2 separate regions of the Homo sapiens genome follow, and region 1 is linked to region 2. Evidence: fine-mapped expression QTL. A gene starts in region 2. The other region holds a variant in brackets. All regions are shown on one strand. Distances are between the middles of the regions. Region 1 overlaps FKRP (fukutin related protein). Region 2 holds the start of PNMA8A (PNMA family member 8A).

What was found.
Region 1: its variant is fine-mapped to the expression of PNMA8A in lung (TOPMed, PIP above 0.99).

Annotation. Positions count from the first base shown.
Region 1 is chr19:46,755,403-46,768,247 of GRCh38, forward strand. FKRP (fukutin related protein) reads left to right here. Exons shown (of 4, transcript NM_024301.5): 4 at 10-3,173. The coding sequence starts at 49. The coding sequence ends at 1,536. Among named protein-coding and RNA genes, the nearest start is that of STRN4, 15 kb to the left of the region's middle. RefSeq lists a silencer at 6,050-6,344. The variant T/A (reference allele first, on the strand shown) is at 4,726.
Region 2 is chr19:46,463,074-46,479,916 of GRCh38, forward strand. It overlaps PNMA8A (PNMA family member 8A), which reads right to left and starts at 8,490. Exons shown (of 3, transcript NM_018215.4): 1 at 8,264-8,490; 2 at 6,660-8,041; 3 at 3,430-5,504. The coding sequence starts at 7,962. The coding sequence ends at 5,488.

The DNA.
Region 1 (12,845 bases), 290 kb after region 2:
CTCCCCCAGGATGCCCCGGAGGCCCAGCTAGCCCCAGACTTCGGCCCCATGCGGCTCACCCGCTGCCAGGCTGCCCTGGCGGCCGCCATCACCCTCAACCTTCTGGTCCTCTTCTATGTCTCGTGGCTGCAGCACCAGCCTAGGAATTCCCGGGCCCGGGGGCCCCGTCGTGCCTCTGCTGCCGGCCCCCGTGTCACCGTCCTGGTGCGGGAGTTCGAGGCATTTGACAACGCGGTGCCCGAGCTGGTAGACTCCTTCCTGCAGCAAGACCCAGCCCAGCCCGTGGTGGTGGCAGCCGACACGCTCCCCTACCCGCCCCTGGCCCTGCCCCGCATCCCCAACGTGCGTCTGGCGCTGCTCCAGCCCGCCCTGGACCGGCCAGCCGCAGCCTCGCGCCCGGAGACCTACGTGGCCACCGAGTTTGTGGCCCTAGTACCTGATGGGGCGCGGGCTGAGGCACCTGGCCTGCTGGAGCGCATGGTGGAGGCGCTCCGCGCAGGAAGCGCACGTCTGGTGGCCGCCCCGGTTGCCACGGCCAACCCTGCCAGGTGCCTGGCCCTGAACGTCAGCCTGCGAGAGTGGACCGCCCGCTATGGCGCAGCCCCCGCCGCGCCCCGCTGCGACGCCCTGGACGGAGATGCTGTGGTGCTCCTGCGCGCCCGCGACCTCTTCAACCTCTCGGCGCCCCTGGCCCGGCCGGTGGGCACCAGCCTCTTTCTGCAGACCGCCCTTCGCGGCTGGGCGGTGCAGCTGCTGGACTTGACCTTCGCCGCGGCGCGCCAGCCCCCGCTGGCCACGGCCCACGCGCGCTGGAAGGCTGAGCGCGAGGGACGCGCTCGGCGGGCGGCGCTGCTCCGCGCGCTGGGCATCCGCCTAGTGAGCTGGGAAGGCGGGCGGCTGGAGTGGTTCGGCTGCAACAAGGAGACCACGCGCTGCTTCGGAACCGTGGTGGGCGACACGCCCGCCTACCTCTACGAGGAGCGCTGGACGCCCCCCTGCTGCCTGCGCGCGCTGCGCGAGACCGCCCGCTATGTGGTGGGCGTGCTGGAGGCTGCGGGCGTGCGCTACTGGCTCGAGGGCGGCTCACTGCTGGGGGCCGCCCGCCACGGGGACATCATCCCATGGGACTACGACGTGGACCTGGGCATCTACTTGGAGGACGTGGGCAACTGCGAGCAGCTGCGGGGGGCAGAGGCCGGCTCGGTGGTGGATGAGCGCGGCTTCGTATGGGAGAAGGCGGTCGAGGGCGACTTTTTCCGCGTGCAGTACAGCGAAAGCAACCACTTGCACGTGGACCTGTGGCCCTTCTACCCCCGCAATGGCGTCATGACCAAGGACACGTGGCTGGACCACCGGCAGGATGTGGAGTTTCCCGAGCACTTCCTGCAGCCGCTGGTGCCCCTGCCCTTTGCCGGCTTCGTGGCGCAGGCGCCTAACAACTACCGCCGCTTCCTGGAGCTCAAGTTCGGGCCCGGGGTCATCGAGAACCCCCAGTACCCCAACCCGGCACTGCTGAGTCTGACGGGAAGCGGCTGAAGCCCTGATAACCTCGCCTTTGTTTTTCGGGGGTCTGTCTGGATGTGGAGAAGCTCTGTGTGAGCGGTGAGGGGTGGAGGGATGTCGCGGAGAGGGGAAGGGGGAAACTGACCAAGAAAGAAATTCTAAGGAGAGCATGAGAGAAGGCTGGCATTGGCAGGAGGAGAGCACCAGGACGAGGATGGGAAGCGACCTCCAGATTTATCAAATGGTCATGCCCACTGGGAGCCGTGGATATGCGTGGGGACATCCTGGGTCATCTCAGTCATGGAGGGAGACGGGGATGTCACGCCGTCCCGCAGGGCCCAGCACAGCCCCAGACCCGAAAAAAGTGTTCTGCCCAAGATTCCGAGAGCCCTGCGCTCTAGGGCAGGGGCAGAGTTTTGGAAACAGTGCAGGCTCTGGAGCCAGACTGGCGAGATTCAAATCCTGGCTCTATCGCTTCGGAGCCAGGTGGGCCTGGGGGGGCGTCGCAGTCTCTCTGTGCCTCAGTTGCTTCCAGGATGCGGGACCCTTGGCTGCAGGGGTTGCTTCCGCCACTAGAGGGCGCGCCGGTCCCGCTCCTGGTGGCCCACTGTGGCTGCCCGGGCGACAGTACGCCCAGGGCCTGTGTTCCATAGCCATCTACTCTCTTGAGCCTTTGGACTTCTCTCCAAGCCCCTGTGGGAGGCGGACAGCAGTGACCACCTCCCCTTCTTTTGGACTGCGACCTCCTTCCCTCCTGGGAGAGCCCTGTGACCTGCATGCTACTCTTAACTGTTCTATTCAAGACTGAATAGAAGTATTTCAGTCTTGCAGAGGAGGAAATGCTCAGAGCTCCGAGGTGCGGCTGTGGTCGAGAACCGGGTGCTGGGCCGGGCGCGGGGGCTCACGCCTGTAATCCCAGCACTTTGGGAGGCCGAGGTGGGAGGATCGCTTGAGCCCAGGAGTCTGAGACCAGCCTCGGCAACATGCCAAGACCCCGTCTCTATTTTTAAAAAAGAAAAAGAACCGACTTCTGAATCGCAGCTCCACTCATGACTAATACCTCATTATTTCAGCTGTCTGCACCTAATTCCCCACTTGCACGGCAGTGTAGACAATAACCATAGCTCACACTCACTGAGCACCTACTGGGTACCAGGCACCATTCTCAGTGTTTCACCTGGATCAACTAATGCGTCCCTCACCTCAGCCCTCTGAAGTGACAGCTGCTATTATTTTCATTACACAGATGAAAAAGCTGAGGCCAGAATCGTGAAGTCACTTGCTCAAGGTCAGGCAGCTTAGGAAGGGGCAGATCGGGGGCTTGAACCCAGGTGGTCAGGCTCTGGAGCCCACAATTGTCTTACCCACTATGCCCCTCTCTAGTCATGGTCCCCAAGAGGGGCTTGGAGACCCACTTAGCAGGTGAAAGCAATGGCAGCCTTCCTTATTTGATTATGCACCTAAGAATAAATGGTATTTGGGCATGTATTCCCAATATGTGTATATTTATTTATAAATATATACAGATACTATTATCTGTATGTTAGTAATAAAGCTTAAATTATTCCATTTTAAAATTATGAATATGAATAGGGTTTTTTTTATGTTTCTTGCCTCATCCCAATGACTTTTGCACACCCAGGTGTGAGCACCCAGCATTCAAGACCACGGGTTAAAAAAAAAAAAAAAAAGCTGGCCGGGCGTGGTGGCTCACGCCTGTGATCCCAACACTTTTGGGAGGCTGAGACAGGAGGAACACTTGAGCTCGGGAGTTCGAGACCAGCCTGAGCAATAGAGCAAGACTCTTGTCAATTAAAAATAATAAATAAAGCCAGGCATGGTGGCTCACGCCTATAATCCCAACACTTTGGGAGCCCAAGGCGGACGGATCACAAGGTCAAGAGATCGAGACCATCCTGGCTAACACAGTGAAACTCCGTCTCTACTAAAAATACAAAAAATTAGCTGGACATGGTGGCGGGCACCTGTAGTCCCAGCTACTCAGGAGGCTGAGGCAGGAGAATGGCATGAACCCGGGAGGCGGAGCTTGCAGTGAGCCAAGATTGTGCCACCGCCCTCCAGCCTGAGCAACAGAGCAAGACTCCATCTCAAAAAAATAAAATAATAAATAAGAGGCAAAATGTTAAAAATAAGCAAGGACTGGGCACAGTGGCTCATGCCTGTAATCCCGGTACTTTCGGAAGCCAAAATTGGAGGATCCTTTAAGGCCAAGAGTTCAAGATCAGCCTGGGCAACATAGCGAGATCCCCTGTCTCTACAAAATAATAAAAAAATAGCCACTGTTTTAGTCCCTTCTCATGCTACTAATAAAGACCTACCTGAGACTGGGTAATTTATAAAGGAGGAAAGGTTTAATCGACCCACAGTTCAGCACGGCTGGGGAGGCCTCATGAAACTTACAATCATGGCAGAAGGGGAAGCAAACACATCTTGTGATGGCAGGAAGAAGAAGTTCCAAGCAAAAGGGGAAAGTTCCTTATAAAACCATTAGATCTCATGAGAACTCACTATCACGAGAATAGCATGGGGGTAACTGCCCCCATGATTCAATTACCTCGCACCCAGTCCCTCCCACGACACATGGGGATTATCAGAACTACAATTCGAGATGAGATTTGGGTGGAAACACAGCCAAACCATATCAGCCAGGCATAATGGCATGCACCTGTAGTCCTAGCTACTGGGGAGGCTGAGGCAGGAGGATTGCTTAAGCCTAGGAGATCAAGACTGCAGTGAGCTCTGATTGCACCTCTGCACTCCAGCCTCGGCAACAGAGCATTATCCCATCCCCCCACAAAAAAAAAGAAAAAAAGAAAAGACATGGGCTTGAGGTTGGAGAGGACCGGGTTTCCCAGTGCTGCCACCTTCTCCCAGGGCCTCTATTGACTCTGTCTCTGCGCCCCCACCTTGCATTTGGGAAGTGGAAGCAATGAGATCGCTCCTCCCACAGGAGTGTGTTCGCGGTAAAGGGGCCCAGAGTCTGGCTGGGTTTGAATCCTGGCTTGGCCACTTGGTTTCTTTGTACTCTCAGACAAGTCGCTGCCTCTCTGAACCTGTAAACTGGGGAGATTGGTAATATTTCACAATTGTACATTCCTGGGAGGAGGAGGCTTCATAGACCAGCAAGAGAAGATTACTGTTTGGCCGAGTCTCCTGAGGCTCAGACATCCAAAGCCTGACTTCTTGTAACCCAACCCCTGC[T/A]TTTAACCACTGAACCCAAAAATGGTTCACAAAGAGACTTGGCAGGTCCACAGGGAGGATTCTGGAATGCATGGGGATGATTTGCATTATCATCATGACTGGAAGCTGCTCTTGGCTCTTGGCAGACGTGGTCCAGGGATGCAGATGTCTTGTAATATTCAGGAATCTCCACACAGTACAGCATCATCCCTTGTCTCATGCAGCTTCCAGATGTCTCATTGGACATTCACGAAGGAAGGGTAATATTCAAAATGTTTTGCCACTGGTACTGTAATATAAATTAGTATATGTCAATGTATGCATCAAATTTTTAAAATATTTTAGGCCAGGCATAGTGTAATCCCAGCACCTTGGGAGGCCAAGACAGGAGGATGGCTTGAAGCCAGGAATTCGAGACCAGCCTGGGCAACATAGAGAGACCCTCATCTCTACAAAACATTTCAAAAATTGAGCAGGGCGTGGTGGTTTACACCATTAATCCCAGCACTTTGGAAGGCCGAGGCAGGTGAATTGCTTGAGCCCAGGAGTTCAAGACCAGACTAGGGGCCAGGCGGGGTGGCTCATGCCTGTAATCCCACCACTTTGGGAGGCTGAGGCGGGCAGATCACTTGAAGCCAGGAGTTCAAGACCAGCCTGGCCAACAAGGCAAAACCATGTCTCTACTAAAAATACAGCAATTAGCTGGGCGTGGTGGTGCACCCCTGCAGTCCCAGCTACTCAGGATGCTGAGGTGGGAGGATCACCTGAGCCCAGGAGGTCAAGGCTACAGTGAGCCATGATCATGTCACTGCATTCCAGCTTGGGCAACAGAGTGAGACCCTGTCTCAAAAAAACAAAAATCCTTATTATCACCTAAGTTATGATATGACAAAGATCTGTCACAATTAACTTGAACTAATTCATTTTTATTCAAATATGTATTGAATTTCAGTGCTTTCTCAACTACTCTTGTACTATTATTATCCAGTCAGAAGTATTTCAGTATTTTAACAACCAGTATTGGCCAAGTATGGTGACTCACGCCTGTAATCCTAGCACTTTGGGAGGCCGAGGTGGGTGGATCACAAGGTCAGGAGTTCAAGACCAGCCTGGCCAATATGGTGAAACCCTGTCTCTACTAAAAATACAAAAACTAGCCGGGCATGGTGGTGGGCGCCTGTAGTCCCAGCTACTCAGGAGGCTGAGGCAGGAGAATCGCTTGAACCCAGGAGGCGGAGGTTGCAGTGAGCCAAGATCATGCCACTGCACTCCAGCCTGGGTGACAGAGCGAGACTCTGTCTCAAAAACAAACAAGAAAGAACAGTATTTCCATACTAGTTCAGACCAACTAAATTTTAGCCTTACTTGGAGGTGAAAACCCTGGCCAAAAATCTCTCTCTTGTACGTACAAAGTCCTTTTTGTTTTTAAATAGCCTCGGAATCTTCCAGGAAGTGCAACTACCACAAAAAATGAGGGAAGCTTGTATCGTGTTTTGTTCAAAACTTGGCCAAAGGTTGTCCACCATGTGAAAAAACTCACATTGCACATGGCTCTTGGTAATTGGACACCAGTCCACGTGTTTTCAATGTGTTGGAACTGTCTATATTACAGGCATAAACATCTGCCTACCTCCTTGGGTTCTAGGGGACTGGCTCCACACATCCGCATAATGAAATGCTTATTGTAAGTTACTATGTTCTTATTTCTCCTTTTTATTACATTTAGGGCAATCAAGGATCGTTTTTGTTGCTGCTGCTGTTGTTGTTGTTTCTGAGACAGGGTCTCACTCTGTCACCCAGGCTGCAGTGCAGTGGCACAGTCTTGGCTCACTGCAGCCTCAACTTCCCAGGCTCAGGCGATTCTCCCACCTCAGCCTCCCGAGTAGCTGGGACTACAGATAAGTACTACCACACCCAGCTTTTATATATATATATATATAAATATATTTATATATATAATGTCTCTACTAAAAATACAAAAATTAGCTAGGTGCGGTGTCGCACGCCTGTAATGCCAGCAGTTTGGGAGGCCAAGGCGGATGGATTACTTGAGGTCAGGAGTTCGAGACCAGCCTGGCCAACATGGTGAAACCCCATCTCTACTAAAAATACGTGTGTGTGTGTGTGTGTGTGTGTGTGTGTGTGTATTTTAAGTAGAGATGGGGTTTCACCATGTTGCTCAGGCTGGTCTCAAATTCCTGGACTCGAGTGATCTGCCCACCTTGGCCTCCCAAAGTAGGATTTTCTTAAATCATGTTAAATCATGTGCCAGTGGGTTATACTGTCTATGAACTTCATTTCAGGAGAACAGAGAGAACTTTCCCAGAACTGACATTCAAGCCAGCACACGCCCTGGTATGGCCACGCCAGTGGTTAAGACAGCAAAACACTAAATTATGGATTATTTACTCATTCATAAACGGTCACTGCCATGAACCCCCTGACTATTAGTATCCTCCTAGCTCTCCCTGGGGATCCCCTGGGCTGCCCTCTGGCCCAGAAGTCCAGGGGTTAAACTGGGTATAGTGGGAGATAAGAGGGACCCATATCCCGGATGTTGGATGGACTGATGACTTTGCCAAGCAGTAAATATTTTGTCTATCAGCCCTACATGTTACAAAATATTTGCTATGAACAATAGTGGCATGTAAAGACCTGTCTACATTAGCCAGGTGTGGTGGCTAATGCCTGTAATCCCAACGCTTTGGAAGACCAAGGCTGGAGGATCACATGAGCCCAGGAGGTGGAGGCCACCCAGGGTAATATGTTGAGACCCTGTCTCTACCAAAAAAATTTAGGAGGGGCGAGTGGCTCATGCCTGTAATCCCAGCACTTTGGGAGGCTGAGGCGGGCAGATCACTTGAGGTCAGGAGTTTGAGACCAGCCCAGTCAACATGGTGAAACCACGTCTCTACTAAAAATACAAAAATTAGCCAGGTGTGGCGGCTCACACCTGTAATCCCAGCACTTTGGGAGGCCGAAGAGGGCGGATTACTTGAGGTCAGGAGTTCAAGACCAGCCTGAACAACATGGTGAAACCCCATCCCTACTAAAAATACAAAAATTAGCCGGGCGTGATGGTGGGTGCCTGTAATCCCAGCTACTCAGGAAGCTGAGGCAGGAGAATTGCTTGAACCTGGGAGGTGGAGGTTGCAGTGAGCCGAGATTGCACCACTGCACTCCAGCCTGGGCAACAGAGCAAGATTCTGTCTCAAAAATAAAATAAGGTAAATAAAAAATAAAAAACCTGTCTACAAATGCACCTTTATGCACAATAGCCCCAACCTGGAAACCATCAGATGTAAATCAACAGGTGGGTGGATAAGCAAACTGTGGTACACTCAGACAACATAATACTCCTTAGCAAGTTTTTTAAAAAAGGAAAGAACTGGGCCGGACGTGGTGGCTCACGCCTGTAATCCCAGCACTTTGGGAGGTCGAGGCGGGCCGATCACCTGAGGTCGGGAGTTCAAGACCAGCCTGACCAACATGGCAAAACCCTGTCTCTACTAAAAATACAAAATTAGCTGGGCATGGTGGCACATGCCTGTAATCCCAGCCACTTGGGAGGCCAAGGCAGGAGAATCACTTGAACTCGGGAGGCGGAGGTTGTAGTGAGCCGAGATTGTGCCATTGCACTCCAGTCTGGGCAACAAGAGTGAAACTCCATCTCAAAAAAAAAAAAAGAAAAGAAAAGAAAGAACAAACTACTGATACATGCAAAAATAAGAATAAATCCCAAAAGCATTATGACACATAAAAAAAAGCCAGATGCAAGACGCTACATAGTATATGATTCCACCAATGTAAAATTCTAGAAGAGGTAAAACTAATTCATAGTGACCAAAAGCAGATCAGTGGTTACCGGGGCCTGGAGCTGGAGAGAGGGGCAGACTGCAAAGAAGCATGAGGAAATTTGGGGATGATGAGAATATCATGTATCTTGATTATGGGAGTGGTTTTTCACAGTATATTCATCTGTCAAAACTCATTTAACTGTATTTTATTTATTTATTTATTTATTTTGAGACAGGGTCTCGCAGCATTGCTCAGGCTGGTCTCAAACTCCTGGGCTCAAGCGATCCTTCTGCCTCGGCCTCTCAAAGTGCTGGAATTACAGGCATGAGCCTGGCCTAATTGATTTTAACGGGTGCAATTTATCATATGAAACAATTTTTTTGGAGCCAGCCTTGCTCTGTTGCCCAGGCTAGAGTGCAGTGGTGCAGTCTTGGCTCACTGCAACCTCTACCTTCTGGATTCAAGTGATTCTCATGCCTCAGCCACCTGAGTAGCTGGGATTACAGGTGTGCACAACCACACCTGGTTAATTTTTGTATTTTTAGTGGAGATGGAGTTTCACCATGTTGGCCAGGCTGGTCTTGAACTCCTGGCCTCAAATGATTTGCCTTGACCTCCCAAAGTGCTAGGATTACAGGTGTGAGCCACCTTGCCCGGCCTATTGTATGTAAATTATACCTCAATAAAGTTGACCTCAAAAAGAGCAGATGGGGGCAGAATCCAACAGGCCTAAGAACATTGACCTGTCTCTAAGAGAGACAAAACTGAGTCACTGCCCTCTGCCTTTCTGTCCCCATACTGCCACTCTGAGCCTAGAACCCAGGACCAACCCTAATCCGGGGCCAGCCTGGGCCCTCCTTCCTGGGCCAAGCTCCTTCAAAGAGGCAAGAGGGGTGGGTGGGGCAATGGAGAAAGGGAGAGAAAGGTGGGAGCTGGGAACTGGGACCCAGGGAGTGACCGTCAAAGTGCCTTTTCTTCTGCTCTTACGTAACCTGCACTAGCAGCCTTTGGGTGAGGCATAAGAGAGCCATTGTCACCGGCGGGTGAGACCTGGCAGTGCTCATCCAAGGTCACATAGTTGCCAGGCAGCAGAGTCGAGACTGAACCAGCCTCTTCCACCATTCCACGAGTGTTTATTGAGCTCCTGCTATACGCATGCACCGGACCCTATGCTAGACTCTGAGCCTACAGCAGTGAACAATTCAAAGATGGTTCCCCCACAGAGTGACCTTCCCAGTGGGGACAGGCAGGAAACAATAAACATCATAAACCAGTGAATTCTATCGTCTGTTGGGAGGGGACTGTTGCTATTAAAAAAGGAGAACAGGGCAGGGCACGGTGGTTCACAACTATAATCCCAGCACTTTGGGAGGCGTAGGTGGGAGGATCCTTTCAGCCCAGGAGTTCAAAACCAGCCTGGACAACATACAGAGACTGTGTCGCTACAAAAAACAAAAATTAAGAAAAAAAAATAGCTGGGCAGGGTAGCATGGGCCTATAGTCCCAGCTACTTAGGAGGCTGAGGTGGGAGTGTCACTTGAGCCTGGGAGGTCAAAGCTGAAATGAGCTGTGATCATGAAACTGCATTCCAGCCTGGGCAACAGAGCAAGACCCTGTCTTTAAAAAAAAAAAAAAAAAGTAGAGCAGGCCTGGCGTGGTGGCTTATGCCTGTAATCCCAGTACTTTGGGAGGCCGAGGTGGGAGGATTGCTTGAGCTCAGGAGTATGAGCCTGGCCAGCCTGGGCCATAGAGCAAGACCCCATCTCTGTTTGTTTGTTTGTTTGTTTGTTTGTTTGTGACAGGGTCTATCTCTGTCTCCCAGGCTGGAGTGCAGTGGCGCGATCTTGGCTCACTGCAACCTCTGCCTCCCGGGTTCAACAATTCTCATGCCTCAGCCTCCCGAGTAGCTGGGATAACAGGCGCCCGCCACTACACCCAGCTAATCTTTGTATTTTTAGTAGAGACAGGTTTTTGCCACATCTCTCGAACTCCTGACAGCGAGTGATCCACCTGTCTCGGTCTCCTAAAGAGCTGGGATTACAGGCGTGTACCACGACACCTGGCTAATTTTTGTATTTGTAGTAGAGACAGGGTTTCGCCATGTTGGCCAGGCCGGTCTTGAACTCCTGGCATCAAGTGATCTGCCTGCCTCAGCCTCCCTAAGTGCACAGATTACAGGCATGAGCCACTGCGTCTGCCCAAGACCCCATCTCTTAATAAAAAAAAAAAAAAAAAAAAAAAAAAAGAGGAAAAGGGCTGGGCGTGGTGGCTCACGCCTGTAATCCCAGAACTTTGGGAGGCCTGAGGTGGGCAGATCACGAGGTCAGGAGATCGAGACTATCCTGGCTAACATGGTGAAACCCCCGTCTCTACTAAAAATACAAAAAAAAAAAAAAAAAAAGCCGGGTGTGGTGGCGGGCGCCTGTAGTCCCAGCTACTCGGGAGGCTGAGGCAGGAGAATGGCGTGAACCCGGGAGGCGGAGCTTGCAATGAGCCGAGATCGTGCCACTGCACTCCAGCCTGGGCGACAGAGCGAGACTCCGTCTCAGAAAAAAAAAAAAAAAGAGAAAAGGGTAGAATAGGGTATGGGTTGGGTGGGTGAGGGTGGGGGCAGGAAGCAGGGGTGGTAGAATTAAATAAAGCGGTCAGAGAAGGCTCACTGAGGTGACATTGCAGCCAAGTCGAGAGGGAGGTGTGGGAAGAGCCAAATGGAAATCTGGGGGGCAGAGCAGCCAAGAGAGGAACAGCCTGTGCAAAGGCCCTGAGGCACCAGCAGGCCTGGCATGTTCAAGGAATGGCAGAGGCTGGAGTAAGAGAGGGAGGAGGAGAGTGGGAAGAGGTGAGGTCGGTGAAGTAAGGCGCATCCTACAGAGGCTATGGGGAGCACCTTGGATTTTTCTCTGGGTTCTGAGCTGCGGAGGGCCACGAGCTGCCATGATGGAAACAGGCGCCCTCTGGAGGCCATATGGGGAACAGACGGAAGAGGTTGGGGCTCAGGAGTCCCGGCGTGAAGGCAATTGCAATAGTTCAGGTGGGAGATGATGGCAGCTGGCCAGGGTGGTACCCAGTGTGGAAGGTGTAGAGGGGCCAGATTTGGGGTTTGAGGGCAGAGAAACTGAGATTTCTGGTAGCTTGAATGTGGGATATGACGGGCAGAAGGAGGGCGTAGCAGGGGAAGGAAATAAAGTGGCTTGTTCTGTATGTGACTGGAGCCCAGCTCCTTGCACCAACCCGGGCTCCTGCACCCCTCAGCAGGCCCAGGGATCCCCACCGCCAGGCCGGAGCCAACCCCATGGAACCCAAAGTGCTCAAGCTCCCCAGTGAATGAGGCTCTTAATGTATCACCGCCCGTCAGGCCTGGCCTGGCATCCGGGTTTCTCCACCTGCGGGGTGCAGGGGCCACATTGGTGGGTTCCAGATTCCAAGTTCCAGTATTTGGAGGAGGTGGCAGAGGAGGGCCCCCACCCCACCGTTTTCATCTTTCACCCAAGATTTGCACAGGTTTCATTTTAATGACAGTCCACTGTCTGTTTGTTAGTTAGCTTTGAGATAGAGTCTCACTCTGTTGCCCAGGCTGGAGTGCGGTGGCAAGATCTCAGCTCACTGCAACCTCCGCCTCCTGGGCTCAAGCGATTCTCCCACCTCAGGCTCCTGAGTAGCTGAAACTACAAATGTCCAGATAATTTTTTACATTTTTAGTAGAGACGGGGTTCCACTATGTTGGCCAAGCTGGTCTCAAACTACTAACCTGAGATGATCCACCTGCTTCGGCCTCCCAAAGTGCTGGGATTACAGGCATGAGCCACTGCGCCCAGCCACCCAGCCACTGGTTTTAAAAAATGTTTGACACTGGGCACAGTGGCTCATGCCTGTAATCCCAGCACCTTGGGAGGCTGAGGTGGGTGGATCACCTGAGGTCAGGAGTTGGAGACCATCCTGGCCAACATGGTGAAACCCCATCTCTACTAAAAAAAAAAATACAAAAATTAGCCGGGCGTGGTGGCAGGCACCTGTAATCCCAGCTATTCGGGAGGCTGAGGCAGGAGAATCGCTTGAACCCGGGAAGTGGAGGTTGCAGTGAGCTGAGATCACATCATTGCACTCCAGCCTGGGGGACAAGAGCGAGACTTCATCTCAAAAAAAAAAAAAAAAAAAAAGCAGTGGCTGGGTGCAGTGGTGCATGCCTGTAATCCCAACACTTTGGCCTGGGAGTTCCAGACCAGCCTGGGCAACATAGTGAGATCCCTTGTTTACAAAACAAAACAAAACAAAAACAAAAACCTTTTCTAATTAAAAATAGCTGGGCATGGCCAGGCACAGTGGTGGCTCACTCCTGTAATCCC
Region 2 (16,843 bases):
AGAACAGCCTGGGCAACATGATGAAACCCCGTCTCTATGAAAGATACAAAAATTAGCCGGGCGTGGTGGTGCACACCTGTAGTCCCAGCTACTTGGGAGGCTGAGGCAGGAGAATCGCTTGAACCTGGCAGGCGGAGGTTGCAGTGAGCCAAGACTGTGCCACTGCACTCCAGCCTGAGCAACAGAGTGAGATGCTGTCTCAAAAAAAAAAAAAAAAAAAAAGGCCGGGGCGTGGTGGCTCACGCCTGTAATCCCAGCACTTTGGGAGGCTGAGGTGGGCGGGTCACCTGAGGTCAGGAGTTTGAGACCAGCCTGGCCAACATGGAGAAACTCTGTCTCTACTAAAACTACAAAATTAGCCAGGCGTGGTGGTGGGCACCTGTAATCCCAGCTACTCGGGAGGCTGAGGCAGGAGAATCACTTGAACCCGGGAGGCGGAGGTTGCAGTGAGCCGAGATGGCGCCATTGCACTCCAGCCTGGGCAAAAAGAGTGAAACTCCCTAAAAAACAAAAACAAAAACAAAACAAACAAAAACACTATGCTGAGGAAAAGAAGCCAGACACCAAAAAAACCATATGCTGTATGACTCCACTTACAGCACTCCTGGGACAGACACACTGAGCTTTGGCTGGAAAAATCATTACAGTGCTCACCTCTGAGAGCTGCGGCGGGGACCGACTGGGAAGGGGCACAGGGAGGCTTTCTAGGATGATGATATTGTTCTGTAACTTGTCGCAGGGGTGGGTTACACAGGTGCCTGCCTATGTCCAAACTTATCCTTATCAGACCGTTCACTTAAGATCTGTCCATTTCACTGTATATAAATGTTTTATTTTAACTAAAAAATGAAAATGTAAAAAAAAGGAATAAATGAATAAGTAAATCAACACAACCCACTTCTTTCTCCTTGGCAGCTCTGCTAACCAGATCCCCAAATGGGCAGCTTTTTCTTGGGCCTCCTGGGTCCAGCTACTGTCACCTCCCCACTAGGCTCCCAGCTGCCACCTCACCCTCTGCAGTCTGTTCCCCACCAGGCTTCCAGGGGGAGCCTGGAAACAACCTATGTAGGATCCTGACGCTGTGTTCAGCACCCTCCCATGGCTCCCATCTCTCAGATTAAAGCTGGAATCCATCCTGGCCGCACCTGTGGGGCTTTGCACACCAGCCTCCAAAGCCCCCTGCCCTCTTGCTCCTCACCTCCTCCTTGCTTTTTTATTTTTATTTTTTTGAGACAGAGTCTTGCTCTGTCGCCCAGGCTGGAGTGCAGTGGTGCGATCTCAGCTCACTGCAGTCTCAACCTCCTGGGTTCAAGCAATTCTCCTGCCTCAGCCTCCCAAGTAGCTGGGACCACAGGCACGCGCCATCACACCTGGCTAATTTTTTTGTATTTTTAGTAGAGATGGGGTTTCACCATGTTGGCCAGGCTGGTCTTGAACTCCTGACCTCAGGTGATCTGCCCGCCTTGGCCTCCCAAAGTGCTGGGATTACAGGTGTGAGCCACTGCGCCCAGCCTTACTCACTTTCTGAAACAGATTAGAGCCTCCCTCCACGATGACTGTTCCCTCTGCCCAGGAGGCCGTTCTTGGCCAACTGCTTGTCTCACCCCTCACCCCCTTCAGGTCTGTTCAGACATCCAGTTCCCAGAGAGGCTCCCCCAACCATTGTAAGCGACAGCCAGCCGTTTCTGCACACTCACCTTGCCTGCCTATCTTCCTGTTATATTTTTCACGGCAGAGCTCCCCACCCCTCCACCTGTGTCTATATAAGGTCTGTCCTCACTCAAACGTCAGGCTCCAGGAAGCCAGGACTCTGTCTTGCTCCTGGCTGTCGTACAGCAGATTCTCAACGAACCTTGCTTGAATGGCAGCATGGGCAACCAGGACACTTTGCCCTCGAGCCCTGCTGGTGGCATCCACAGCTCTCCATCTTCCTGCAAACACTCCGGGCCAGCGCCTCCCCAGACGCACCCCTGAACAGAACACCTCCACCCGGGGCGATGAGGTTTCTTTGAAGAGAGCTTTCATGTGCCCCAACCTTGGATTCCCCCCATTTTTAGGGCACGTAGGCCTTTCATACTTTACTGACAGCCTGGGTGTAACCAGTAGGAGTGACTATTATTGTGGGAGGTACTTAAACATCTTGGTCAAATAGGGCTTTTCCCATTGTGGGGGTGTGGGGGCACCCAATAAATAGAGCTTCATCCAGATGCTTCTATGAGTACACGGCAGTTCCTAACGAGCTCCGCGTCCTCAAATCCCAGCTTCCCTTTTGGTCTCTTTCGCATCTTTCCTCATAATCTCCATTCACTTTCACAAAACCTCAACCTGGACCCCTAAGGACACTTCCGTTTCCCCAAGTCTGAATTATTCCACCTGAAGCTCTCCAACCTGTATTATTAATAGAATTCTTGGCTGGGCGTGGTGGCTCACGCCTGTCATCCCAGCACTTTGGGAGGCTGAGGTGGGCGGATCACGAGGTCAAGAGATCAGAGATCGAGGCCATCCTGGCCAACATGGTGAAACTCCATCTCTACTAAAAAAAATACAAAAATATTAGCTGGGCGTGGTGGCGCACCCCTGTAGTCCCAGCTACTTGGGAGGCTGAGGCAGGAGAATCGCTTGAACCCGGGAGGCAGAGGTTGCAGTGAGCTGAGATCATGATACTGCACTCCAGCCTAGGAGACAGAGCGAGACTCCGTCTCAAAAAAAAAAAAAAAAAATTCTCAGGAGAAACTGTTTAAGACGCAGATAACTATGTACAACCCCGAAGAGATCCTGAATCAGCAGGTAGAGCCACGAAATGGTACCTTGAACAGATTCCAAGTGACTGATGTAGTGGCCACCCTGGTTCAGGAGTTCCTGGGGAGGGGCAGGGGAGGGCCAGAAGAAAACTATATTTTTAGCTAAAAGACCTCAGCTTCTGGCTTGGCATGGTGGCTTACACCTGTAATCCCAACGCTTTGGGAGGCCGAGGTGGGCAGATCACTTGAGCCCAGGAGGTAGAGGCTGCAGTGGGCTGAGACTGTGCCACTGCACTCCCACCTGGGTGACAGAGCGAAACTCCATCTCAAAAAAAAAAAAAAAAAAAGACCTTGGCTTCTGTGTGAGGGAATAGGAAGGGAGGGAAAGGTTTTCATTTTCCAGCTGTTTATAAAAAAATAAACTGGTACTTTGAGGTAATTTGCGTCACCAGATACCTATTCTAGAAACCCCAAGATCTGTGGGACATCCTTCCACATCAGTGGAAAGCCATTCGCAAAGAGGACAAACGGCTTCTTCTCTCATGGATCATTAACAATTCTCAAAGCTTGAACCCGTATCTGATAACCAGTCACATCTGGCTGGGGGCACTGTTTGAGGAAAGGGGAACCCTTTCCTCAAATTTAATAGTCCATGCAATCCTCACCTACAAGAGACTTAACAGGACACTTAATTTGCTAAACTTTATTTTATACATACACGTTTACATTTACTAGTCATGGTGTCAACTTGTTAACACAACGAAGCCCTAATGGACCCGTTTTGAAATTAGAAGCTGGACAGTTACAGGCTTTGGTCTCTTCAAGAATCCAATTCACCCCTGGGTTTCGCTTGGCACACACCCCAGGAGAACGTCGATGCACACAGCTGTGTAGCTGCAAACGGAAACCACTCTCTTTTCTCTCGTATTTTTCAGTCAGACTCACTCAGGATTTTGAAATGAATCATCACGAGAAATTTGTTTTAAAGTTGAATCACTGAGAACATCTAACAACTGTTCACATTCTTTATCACAAAAACTGAAGTCGGAAAAGACGCCCTGAAAACTTGCAAGGGCTAATACTCTATGATAGAATATTACTACTGTTCACCATGTTAATACATTTACTTACTACCATACACCTGAACAGTCACGGCAGAACAAGAGCATGTGAATGACGAAAGGAAACTTGCTTTCAGGGTGTCAGATTATAGAACATGCACAGGAATTTCTTCCACTTCTAACCTCGCTCATCAGTCACATTTACAAGAAACTCAATTTTAAGCAAAGAGATGCCTGAAATAACTAAGACGTGTACAAAAACAAGTTAACCTATGAACACAAGGTAATATTCTGATAGTCTTCGATGTGACTTCCAACATATCTGAGTAGTCACTTTTCAGTTTTTTAAACACGTGAGAAAAATAGATTTGGATTACATCTTTGTGGACGGCTACGATACAGTTTGGAAACCATTATCTCAGGGACCCTGCTCTCTCCTCTACACATGCGCACGCAAACACACACACACACACACACAATGACACATGGTGGTCTGGTCTAATATAGTGTGTCTGAATTCAGAGGGCAGACATTAACAGCCAAGTTTTGTTTTTTTGAGAGAGAGTCTCACTCTGCTGCCCAGGCTGGAGTGCCGTGGCACAATCTCGGCTCATTGCAACCTCTGCCTCCTGGATTCAAGCAATTCATCTGCCTCAGCCTCCTGAGTAGCTGGGATTACAGGCGCGCGCCACCACGCCCAGCTAATTTTTGTAGAGATGGGGTTTCACCATGTTGGTCAAGCTGGTCTTAAACGCCTGACCTCGTGATCGACCTGCCTCAGCCTCCCAAAGTGCTGGGATTACAGGCGTGAGCCACCGTGCCCGGCCAACAGCCAAGTTTTAAAAGATTTTTTTCCCCTCTTACTATAATGTGAGTAGTGACCTTCTGCTGCAAAGATGGTGACAGTTTGGTGCAAAGATGGTGACAGTTGGGTAGATGGATGGAATTAGAGCTGGGGACCTAGGAATGCCTGCGTCCTTCCCTATAATCACCCCCCTTCCCCACAGGATTCCTGAGAGGGCTCATCCCAAATGGGAATCAAAGTGCCATTTTTACTAACAGACTCTAAAACTCAAAGACTTTGAGGTCTAGGCAGACATTCTTTTTCCCTAAAACTAACTCTTGGGACCTCCTGGCTAGATAACTGGAGGATGGAAGCTGGAGACTGAAGGAGCAATAAAACCAGGTTTGCAGCGAAGGTCCTGGCTTAACTTACCCCGCTGGTTACACGAGAGGAAGGCGGGAGGAAGAATATGGCAGGGCCACCCAGCTCTTCCAAATGCCAGGGCCTGCAGAGGTCGCTGACCATTCCGAGGAGGGAGCAAGGCGTGGGGGAGAAAAGCTGAACATGGATGAGTGTAACAGTGACCCTGCTCATGCATAAAGGGGAATGAATGTTCTAGAATTTTCCCAATCCTCTTACCAACTCTCCTGCCTCCGAAGAGAAGGTGAGTAGAGAAGGCGGTGAAACGGCAGGCCTGGTAGAGAAAAGGGCATAGAGATCCACCTCCCTTCCCCAACTCCCTCCCACCCAAGACCTCACCTATCGTTTACCTCAGGGCCAGATCTCTATCAACAGGGGCCCTAAGAGAGTCCAAAGTCTTATTCAGTGACAAGAGAGAACTTGGTTGACTTGGTACTTCTTCCTTGTTCTTTCAACTCCTCAGTATGGGTGGTCCCCCAGATCAAACCTTTCTGGATTCTGCAAATAAATGAGAGAACAGATCAAGAAGGGAAGCAGAGAGGTGTCATTAGGAAATGCATTACTTCCAAGAAATTTCTGGGTCCCTGAACATTTCTATTCCCCAGCCAGGTCTCTAGAAAACTTCACCCTTAAAGCCACATACCCTGCAAACACCATAACTCCAAAGTATTAATATTTTTTTTGGGGGGAGGGGGGAACAGGGTTTCACTCTATCGCCCAGGCTGGAGTGCAGCAGTGTGATCTTGGCTCCCTGCAACCTCCACCTCCCAGGTTCAGGGAGGGTAAGAGCCCAGACCGCCCTTCCAGGAGCCCCTGAAGGCCGATGCTGGAGACATCTGGTGGGCAGATGTCTGGAGGCCAATCCCAGGCCTTGGCCTCCCCAGTAGCTGGGATTACAGGCACAAACCACCATGCCCAGCTAATTTTTGTATTTTTAGTAGAGATGGGGTTTCACCATGTTGGCCAGGCTGGTCTCGAACTCCTGACCTCAGGTGATCTGTCTGCCTTGGCCTCCCAAATCATTAAATTCTTTTTTTTTTTTTTGGAGACAAGAGTCTCACTCTCGTCACCCAGGCTGGAGGGCAGTGGCACAATCTAGGCTCACTGCAACCTCCACCTCCCGGGTTCAAGAGATTCTCCTGCCTCAGCCTCCCGAGTAGCTGGGATTACAGGTATGTGGCACCACACCCGGCTAATTTTTTGTATTTTTAGTAGAGACGGGGTTTCACCATGTTGGCCAGGCTGGTCTTGAACTCCTGACCTCAGGCGATCTGCCCACCTTGGCTTCCCAAAGTGCTGGGATTACAGGCATGAGCCACCAAGCCTGGGCCCAAACCATTAAATTCTCATCAAGGAAGATGGGTCAGATGGAGTGGCAAATGACCACAGTGACACTCATTGTGGGTTTCCTCTGCCACCTCCTGCCCACCAGATGTCTCCAGCATCGGCCTTCAGGGGCTCCTGGAAGGGCGGTCTGGGCTCTTACCCTCCTCAACTGGTGTGTCATCCACCTCCTGCCATGCACCAGGGTCCTCCTCATCACCCGCTTGACCCACCACCTCCTCGGGCTCCTCTGCCCCACCTGCCACTCCTGCTCCTCCTGCCTCATCCACTTGCTGGCACGAGCCCAGTCACTTCTGCTATCATTCTCACCATTGGTGGCACGCCGAGGAGAGCCTTCTGGCTTGGCCTTCGGACCCCTAGAGGTTGAGGCTGTTGCCTCGGCAGGCTGCTGGCCCCGAGGGGCCTTCTGATCTGATGCCTCCCTTCTTGAGCCTGGCCCTTTCTTTGGCATCACCGGCTTCTTCCTGCCATCTTCTGAGTCAACCAAGACGTAGGAGACAGGGCCCAAGCTCACCTTCTTCTTCTTCCTCATGGGAGCGGGGTTCTTGGCAGACACCCAGGCCACGGCCTTCTTCTTTGGTGGGCTTTCATGGCCACCATCTTGGTCTGACTCAGAGGCGCCTCCTGGGCTCTCGGCTTCTGCCCGGGCATCCTGAGGTGGCTCTCTGGGACCCTTCCAGGCACATTTCGCCATGGGCTTCTTCAAAGCCAACTCCTCCTTATTCACACAGGGCTTTCTGCTGCCCTTGATCGGCTCTGAGATCGCCATGCTTTCAGCATCACCCACCTCAGGATCCTCCAAGTTAGCTGTGCTGTTGGAATTGATGCCTTTGGGTTTTTTCCAGGGCACTGCTTCCTGCCTGGAGTTCTTCTTCTGCTTCTTTCTCCTGGAGCGAGACTTAGCTCCAGCCCTGCGAACCAAAGGTTTGGTAGGCTCATGCTGGTCTTCCGTGGCATTCCAGTTGTTGGGGGTCTCTGCCTTTAAGGCAGAACCCACCTCTGCTGCAAGCCCCGGTTCTTTCTTCACCTTCCTCCCTGCTGCTAAAGCCCAGGCTGCCATCTCCTCGAATTCAGCGGCCTCCTGGGCCCTGGCTTCCTCCCGGCTGCGGATCTCGGCATCCATGCAGAAGATGATCTGCACCACTGCTCCCAGAAGCACCCCCAGAGCTTCTGCCCAGTTCTCTGGGGGCTGATGCTGGTTCTGGGACAGGGTGGGGTGGTTGAGCTGGAGCAGGCGGACCACATCCTCCCAGGTGCGCCCCTCGGCATCCAGGAATTCATTCAGATTTTTTAAAAACTCGGCATCCTGGGTAGGGTCTCTACAGACCACTCTCCAGACACCACCCCTTCCTGGGAATTCACGGGGGATGGTGCTCAGATTCACACCTTCACCAACCTCAATGAGGGCAGCTTTAACATTCTCTTCCCTCACAAAAATCTTGTTGAGCACGCGGTACGGGCCCAGTGGGGAGAGGACCCCATTCAAGGTCTCCTCAATTTCTGCCTGCCCACAGTCCTCTGGGATGCCTGTGACCAACAAGGACCTGTGGATGTCCACTTCCATTCCCCTGCACCAATCCTCCAGAAGGTTCATCGCCATGGTCTTGGACATTTAGCGGCTCTGAACCTACTATGTGTAGTAAATAGTCTATCAGGTGGACGTGGGCTGCAGCGGTCTCCAAACAGTAATCCTGCAAGGTGACAAGGGAGCGAGGTCACGTTCCCAGGAAGATGACCAAGCTCACAGATCCTAGCTGCCCCCTCCGCGGCTGGCCTGCAGGAGGCCTGGCGCTTTCCCAACACCCTCCTCCCCAACCCAGGCCCCGGTGCTCACACGTGTCCCTGAATCTGCAGCAAAAGGCCCTAGGACCCTCCCCCGGGCCTGACGCTCCGCCTGCCCAGCCGGGACTTACTTGGCAGATCAGCCTCCGACCGCCCAGCCAGGCCAAGGAGACGCAGTGGAATGCAGCCGTTTCCCAGTCGCTGGCTCCGGCTACCCCGGCGCCGCTGCTAGAGGCAGAAAGGGCCAAGAAGGCGCCGTCCGCCCCCGCTCCGGCCCAGGCGGGTCACGGGGCGTCCAGACTCGATGCCGTTAGCGGCGAGAAGCCGAGGTTGGCGTCGCAGCGCGCGCCTGCGCACTGGCTCCCGCACCGCCGCTCGGGGGTCTTGGGCTGCGCAGGTGCCGACGTCTCCATGGCAACCGGGCGTGGGTTGCTAGGGCTGAGCCCGGCCGGCGCGCCGGCGCTGCAATTGGACCTAGGGAGCCGGGTGCAAGAGTGGCCTGTTCAGGTCGCAGAGCAAGCGGGTCTGGATACACTCCGGTGGCGCCTCCACGGAGGCCCTCTTTCAACCCAAGTGGGCCTCGCGAACGGGGGTTAGGTCGATGAGAAGCGCCAACACCTATGGCTGCACCCACTGACTGTATTATCCTCTGCCCCACCTGTTGGATTCACCCAACGCAACTCTTGGGAGACACTAGAAATCAAGAAAGGAGGAAAACGAGGCTTTAATCTTCTTGGGTTCCTCCAACAGCAGGTGCAGTTCCTGTTGGGCTTGTAGCCTTCTCTCTTACAAGCTGCTGGGTTCTTCCAGGAATTTCCAGAAACTTCTAGAAATTTCTTAGTCTCCTCCCCGACCCCTTCTAGCATGAGGATAATGCCTCGCCTTTTCTTGTTTCCTCAACGTGATTCAGGGCAGGTTCTTGGCATCCTCCAGGCAGGGGACAATGTTACAGCTCAGTGACTGCCCCTACAGAGAAGTGTTAGTCCAAACTGCAACCATTTTGTAAGCCCTGACTATTTTGCAGATCTTGGTCAAAGTGAAATATTCCACGGGGGTTCGGGCCAATGAGAAACATCCTGCCTAATCACCTGACCACAAGGCGGACAAAGGCCCAGCTAAAGAAACATTATCATACCCTATCGTGCAAAGGCCCAACTGAAGAAACATCCCTATCATATTCTGCTGGGAGAAAGTGCAGAGAACACCACATTCCACCAGAACAAGGGCCAGAACCGCCTCATCATGGAACCATCTTATCAACATCCTGCTGGGCAGCAAACCATACTGCTCAGACCCCTCCCACCCATAACTATAAGTACCCCCAGCCTATAAGCAGCAGTGGGCTCTGGCATTAGGCTGGTTACCCACTTCCACAGGTGTCTGCAGTATACCTGAGTTGCTGTTGAGCCGCCTTCTGTCTGTGTGTCTTTAACCCTCACCTTCCCTCCAAAACCTAACAAGGAGGGCTACCCTCTAGGCAGTGTGCTGAGAATAGCACCTCGGGGCAAGGCTGCAGTCACATTTATACCCACTTTTAATGACGTGCTAATTAAGGGGTGGGTTTTCAGAATTAGCAAATTGGCAGTAACTTATGGGTGTTGCCATGGCAATGGTAAACTGTCATGGTGCTGGCAGGCATGTCTTATGGAGAGAGGCTTTCGGTGCCTTTTCCAGGTTTTGGCCAGTCTTCAATGTGATCCTCAGTGGAGTCCCCTGGGCCTCCTACCTCAACCTTGCTGCCCATGAGCAAGAACTTTGTTAATAGTTTATTAATGCCCAGTGCTGTGGCTCACGCATGTAATCCCAACACTTTGGGAGGCTGAGGAGGGCGGATCACTTGAGCTGGGGAGTTCGAGACCATCCTGGGCAACATGGCAAAACCCCGTCCCTACCAAAAACGCAAAAAATTAGCCAGGTGTGATAGGGGTCACCTGTGGTCTCAGCTATTCGGGAGGCTGAGGTGGGAGGATTGCTTGAACCCAGGAGACCCTGTCTCAAAAAAAATAAACTAATTAATTAAGCACTCCTATGAGACTCGGTTGGACTGGCCATCTGTTTTTTTTTTTTTTTTTTTGCCAGTCCCTCACTGATCCACCTACCAATGTCCCTTCCTGGCTGTGTGATCTTAGAGAAATAATTTGACCCCGCTGAGCTTATTTCTTTTCTCTGTAATAGGAATTCTAATAAAAAATCTTCCTGATTTGGAAGTTTTGAAGATTCGGGGGGATCTCATCTGAAAGATGCATGGAAGTACAATTTGGGCCTTGGTATTCAACCAAAATCTGTTCTTTGGGTTCATTTTTGAAACTGACATTTGCAAGGCCAAATAGCCAAATGTTCATTTCACTGTCATCTCTGGCATTCCTAAATTTGGGCATCATCAATACTTGTGTGATTGCCCAAGTTTCCATCATATTTTGTGCTAAAAAGTTGTGTCATTCAAATCGTTAACCTCTGATTATTCACATAATTCACACCGAATATTCCAATAAACACTCTAGCTATGATTAAAGTCTTTAAATCTCATGTGCTTTATATGTTGAAATTCTACATATCAGTGGAAGAATGAGTGTATATTTTTAGGCAGTGGTTTAAAAACATAGCCATAAATTCTCCGACACTTCTATTGAGAAGTGACGATCTGTGTCCCCTCCTCGTGAATCTGAGCAGACTTGTGACTACTTTAACCAATGGAGTTTAGTGGAAAGGAAGCTATGTGGCTTCTCAGACTATGTTACAGAAGGGCACGCAGCTTCTTCCTCATTCACTGGAACACTTTTTTTTTTTCTTTTTTGAGACAGAGTCTCGCTCTGTCGCCCAGGCTGGAGTGCAGTGGCGCAATCTCGGCTCACTGCAAGCCCCACCTCCCGGGTTCACAGCATTCCAGGTTGGGAAGAACAATGAACAATTTTTCTGAGAGATGGCTAATCACAATCCCCCATGGGCACAATGACCTCTTTCTGCATGTAGCCCCCTCCAGCATACCCCTATGAAACTTCCAGTCCCTGCCTTTTTGCAGACAGCCCCCTTCTCTGCTGTGCTGCCCATTGCAACCGTGCAATGTATTTTCATATCTTCTCTAATAAATCTGCCTTTCTTTACCTACAACTGTCTTGGTAAATACCTTTACTGCCCACAACACCCGCCGCACCTAGTCGTACCCGTGACAGTTGGGGGTGACTCAAATGACTGAGAGCTAGAATCATCTGGGAGTTTCTTCACTCACATGTCTGGTGCCTGGGCTGAAATCCTTTGAAAGCTGGGCTCAGCTGGGAAATGTTGATGGAAGCACTGATGTGGCTTGGGCTTCCTCACAGCATGAAAACCAGAGGGTAGATCGTTGAACTTCTTATTTGGAAGCTCAAGGATGCAAGAACAAGAGTGTTCCTGTGAGGCTGGGCGCGGTGGCTCACGTCTGTAATCCCACCCTTTGGGAGGTTGAGGCGGGTGGATCTGGACGTCAGGAGATCGAGACCATCCTGGCTAACATGGTGAAACCCCGTCTCTACTAAAAATCCAAAAAAATTAGCCGGGCCTGGTGGCAAGCTCCTGTAATCGCAGCTACTCGGGAGGCTGAGGCAGGAGAATGGCCTGGCCAACATGGTGAGCCGAGGCTGCACCATGGCATTCCAGCCTGGGGGACAAGAGCGAGACTTCGTCTCAAAAAAAGAAAGAGAGGCCGGCGCGGGCTCACGCCTGTAATCCCAGCACTTTGGGAGGCCAAGGCGGGCGGATCGTGGGTCAGGAGATCGAGACCACCCTGGCTAACATGGTGAAACCCTGTCTCTACTAAAAATACAACAACAACAACAAAAATTAGCCGGGCGTGGTGGCGGGCGCCTGTAGTCCCAGCTACTCAGGAGGCTGAGGCAGGAGAATGGCGTGAACTCGGGAGGCAGAGCTTGCAGTGAGCCGAGATCACGCCACTGCACTCTAGCCTGGGCGACAGAGCAAGACTCCGTCTCAAAAAAAAAAAAAAAAAAAAAAGTTACTCTAGAGAAGTATTTGGGACCCCCATGGGAATGAGATGCGTCTACCACCGTAACAGGAGGGACCTCTGCATCCAGGACATCTGGGTCCAGGAACGCTAGTAGGAGTGAAGGTAGAAAAATGAAGACGGGCTGGGCACGATGGCTCACGCCTGTAATCCCAGCACTGTGGGAGGCCAAGGCAGGCAGCTCACCTGAGATCAGGGGTTCAAGACCAGCCTGACCAACATGGAGAAACCCTGTGTCTACTACTAATACAAAAATTAGCCGGGCATAGTGGTGCATGCCTGTAATCCCAGGTACTTGGGAGGCTAAGGCAGGAGAATCGCTTGAACCCAGGAGGCGGAGGTTGCGGTGAGCTGAGATTGTGCCATTGCACTCCAGCCTGGGCAACAAGAGTGAAACTCCGTCTCACAAACAAAAAAAAAAAGTAAATTATTTTTTGAAAAATAAATATAGGTTAAAATAGTGAATTTTATGTTATGTGTATTTTACTACAAAAGTGAACAAATAATGCGTTACAGAATGGAGAGATGGGGGGCAAGGGAGGGAGAGAGATGCCTTCAGCTTTGCCTCAAAAGCCAGGTTTCAGCTTTCTGCAGAGCCAATATTCCTAACAGTCCTGGCTGCCCCTTCAGGAATGCCACCCAACCCCAGTGCATGAGCACAGAATCAAAGTTCTGGAACTTTCTCTTCAAAGAGAAAACAAAACATCTCAGTGTGTTTGAAAATTCTGCTAAGGATTTGTCAGACCAAAAAAAAATAATAATAAAAAAATAAAAGAAGAAGAAGAAAATCGTCAATCTAGACAGGATAAAAAGTAAATTTATACCAGCAGTGGATTGTAAAACATCATAACTAAAATGAAATGGAATGGATGTTTGCTGAATCTCAGAGGCTTTTGCTATGTTTGCCAAGTAGTTTTACAAATGCGGGAGCTTGTTTGTGATCCAGGCTGCAGACAAAGTTGCTGCAGTGGAAACTGAGTCACACAGTGACTCAGTTAGAATTAGACACTGTCTGTTTTTTCTTCTCTCTTTTTCAGTTATTTATTTTGGCATGCAAGGGAATGACAGACACTGAGTTTTGATAAATACTGGATTTTTAAATGCAATAATCCTCCAAGTGACTATCTCTGGGGAGAAGAAGAGGGCAAGTCATATGGGAGGTAGGACACAGCCTATTTAAACAATAATTTTGTTTAAAGATGTGTAAATAAATTTAGCATAGTATTAAGATTTAATAAAGAATGGCAAGGGATACATAAGGGTTAATTATATAAATCTCTTTTTTTTTTTTTTTCTGAGACAGAGTCTTACTCTGTCCCCCAGGCTGGAGTGCAGTGGCGCACTCAGCCTCCACCTGCAGGGTTCAAACGATTCTCCTACCTTAGCCTCCTGAGTAGCCGTGATTACAGGCACGTGCCACCATGCTGAGCTAATTTTTGTATTTTTAGTAGAGAAGGGGTTTCCCCATGTTGCCCAGGCTGGTCTCAAACTGCTGACCTCAAGTGATCCGCCTGCCTCGGCCTCCCAAAGTGCTGGGATTACAGACATGAGCTGCTGAGTCCAGCCAATAATGCTAAAAAAAAAAAAAAAAAAAAAAAAAAGGTGTAAATAAATTTAGCATAGTATTAAGATTTGATGAAGAATGGCACGGGATGCATGAGGATTAGTTATATAAATATCAATTCTTTTTTTTTCGAGACTGAGTCTCACTTTGTCACCCAGGCTGGAGTGCAGTGGCGCGACCTCGGCTCACTGCAGCCTCTGCCTCCTGGGTTCAAGCAGTTCTCCTGCCTCAACCTCTCAAGTAGCTGGGATTACAGGGACCCGCCACTATGCCTGGCAAATTTTTGTACTTTGTTTTGTTTTGTTTTGTTTTAAGACGGAGTCTCGCTCTGTCACCCAGGCTGGCTTGCAGTGGCGCGATCTCGGCTCACTGTAAGCTCCACCTCCCGGGTTCACGCCATTCTCCTGCCTCAGCCTCCCAAATAGCTGAGACTACAGGTGCCCGCCACCACGCCCGGCTAATTTTTTGTATTTTTAGTAGAGATGAGGTTTCACCATGTTAGCCAGGATGGTCTCGATCTTCTGACCCCGTGATCCGCCCGCCTCGGCCTCCCAAAGTGCTAGGATTACAGGCATGAGCCACCACACCCAGCTTTTTTTCTTCTTGAGACAGGATCTTGCTCTATCTCCCAGGCTACAGTGCAGTGGCAGGATCACAACTCACTACAGACTCAACCTCCTGGGCACAAGCGAGCCTCCTGCCTCAGCCTCCTGAGTAGCTGGGACCACAGGCATGCACCACCACGCCCAGCTAATTTTTAAAATTTTTTTGTAGGGCCAGGGTATCACTATGTTGGGTAAGATGGTCTCCAACTCCTGTCTCAGCCTCCCAAAGTTCTGGAATTATAGGCATGAGCCACCGTGCCCAGTCAATTCTCTATTCTTGACTTTGAGTTTGGAATATTCCACAATTTTTATTTTATTTTATTTTATTTTATTTTATTTTATTTTATTTTATTTTATGAGATGGGGTCTCACTCTGTCACCCAGGCTGGAGTGCAGTGGCTTAATCACAGCTCACCGCAGCCTTCATCTCCTGGGCTCAGGCAGTCCTCTTGACTCAGCCTCCCAGGTAGCTGGGACTACAGGCATGTGCCACCACACCTGGCTAATTTTGCATCTTTAGTAGAGACAGGGTTTCTCCATGTTAGTCAGGCTGGTCTCGAACTCCCGACCTCAGGTGATTCACCCGCCTCAGCCTCCCAAAGTGCTGGGATGACAGGCATGAGCCACTACACCTGGTTTTTTTTTTTTTTTTTTTTTTTTTTTTTTTTTTTTTGAGACAGAGTCTTGCTCTGTCTCCTAGGCTGGAGTACAGTGGCGCACTGCAACCTCTGCCTCCCAGGTTCAAGCAATTCTCCTGCCTCAGCCTCTCAAGTAGCTGGGACTACAGGCGTGCACCACCACACCTGGCTAATTTTTGTACTTTTAGTAGAGATAGGGTTTCATCATGTTGGCCAGGCTCTCAAACTCCTGAGCTCAAGTGATCCTCCCGCCTCAGCCTCCCAAAGTGCTGGGATTACAGGCATGAGCCATTTCATTGCATCTGGCCATGTTTTTGCCATTACTTTCAATGGCAAAAACTGCAATTAATTTTGCCTCAGCCTAAATATTATAAAGGTACAACTATGTGTGTATATGTGTGTGTGCGTGTGTGTGTGAAGTGGAGTCAGCTGCCTGCCTGCTCTCCCATTAAAGAGCCACAGTGATTGCTAGCTGATTTAAAAATAGTTCAAGCACCCTTAACAGGAATCATTACAGTGGTTTCCATGACAACACGATGTGCTGTGGTTTCCAAGGCAACAACTGGCACTGTGGTTTCCATGACAAAGCATCCCTGCAGCCCCAACCCTCCCCTCCATCTCTGCACTTCCAGTTTAGGGTTCTCCTTCCATCCTCTTCCGCTGTGTTTCACCTTTGAGTTTTTATTTTGCCCTGCTGTGTATGTTCAGTGAGAACCCACAGAGTTTCCATAAACACTGAACCCAAAGAAAGTCCAGGGGGCTCTGGGATCCCGCCTAGATGTTTCCTCCTGAGTCAGTTGCAACAACCCATCATGGTGGTTCTGTGACTCAACCTGGCTGGCTCTGTCCAATTTGTTCTGTGAGAGCCCCTTCTTGCTGCAGAGTTTCCTTTTTTAAATTATTTTTTTTCTTTTCTTTTCTTTTCTTTTTAATTGAGGCAGAATCTTGCTCTGTCACTCAGGCTGGAGTGCAGTGGTGCGATCTCAGCGAGGATTACAGGTGCATGCCACCATGCCCGGCTAATTTTTGTATTTTTAGCAGAGGCAGGGTTTCACCATGTTGACCAGGCTGGTCTCAAACTCCTGACCTCAGGTGATCTGCCCGCCTCGGCCTCCCAAAGTGCTGGGATTACAGGTGTGAGCTACCATGCCTGGCTTTATTTTCTATTATATCTACGTGTGTGTGTGTCTCCTAGGTCACAGCAAAATGTATTTCTTATCACGGATCATGATCAAACACATGTGACAGCCACTGCCATAGGTTAATTACCGAGTCCCCTATGGATGGCTATGCAGGTCGTTCTCTATTTTCCGGTCTTTCAAATGAAGAGCTGAGAAGGGCTGGTGGCTGATGCCCTACAGACATCTATGTTGCTTGGATTCAGGTGTGACTTCTTAACTTGTTTGAAAATATGGCCGGGCGCGGTGGCTCACCCCTGTAATCCCAGCACTTTGGGAGGCTGAGGCGGGTGGATCACGAGGTCAGGAGATCGAAACCATCCTGGCTAACATGGTGAAACCCTGTCTCTACTAAAAAAAAAATACAAAAATGTAGCCGGATGTGGTGGCAGGCGCCTGTAGTCCCAGCTCTTCGGGAGGCTGAGGCAGGAGAATGGCGTGAACCCGGGAGGCGAAGCTTGCAGTGAGCCAAGATTGTGCCACTGCACTCCAGCTTGGGCAACGGAGTGAGACTCCGTCTCAAAAAACAAAAAATAAATAAAATATGATGCTTTTCAAAAGTTACAGTGTCAGCTGGTTGCAGTGGCTCACGCCTGTAATCCCAGCACTTTGGGAGGCTGAGGCGGGCAGATCACTTGAGGTCAGGAGTTCGAGATTAGCCTGCCCAACATGGTGAAACCCCGTCTCTACTAAAAATGCAAAAATTAGCTAGGCATGGTGGCCCATGCA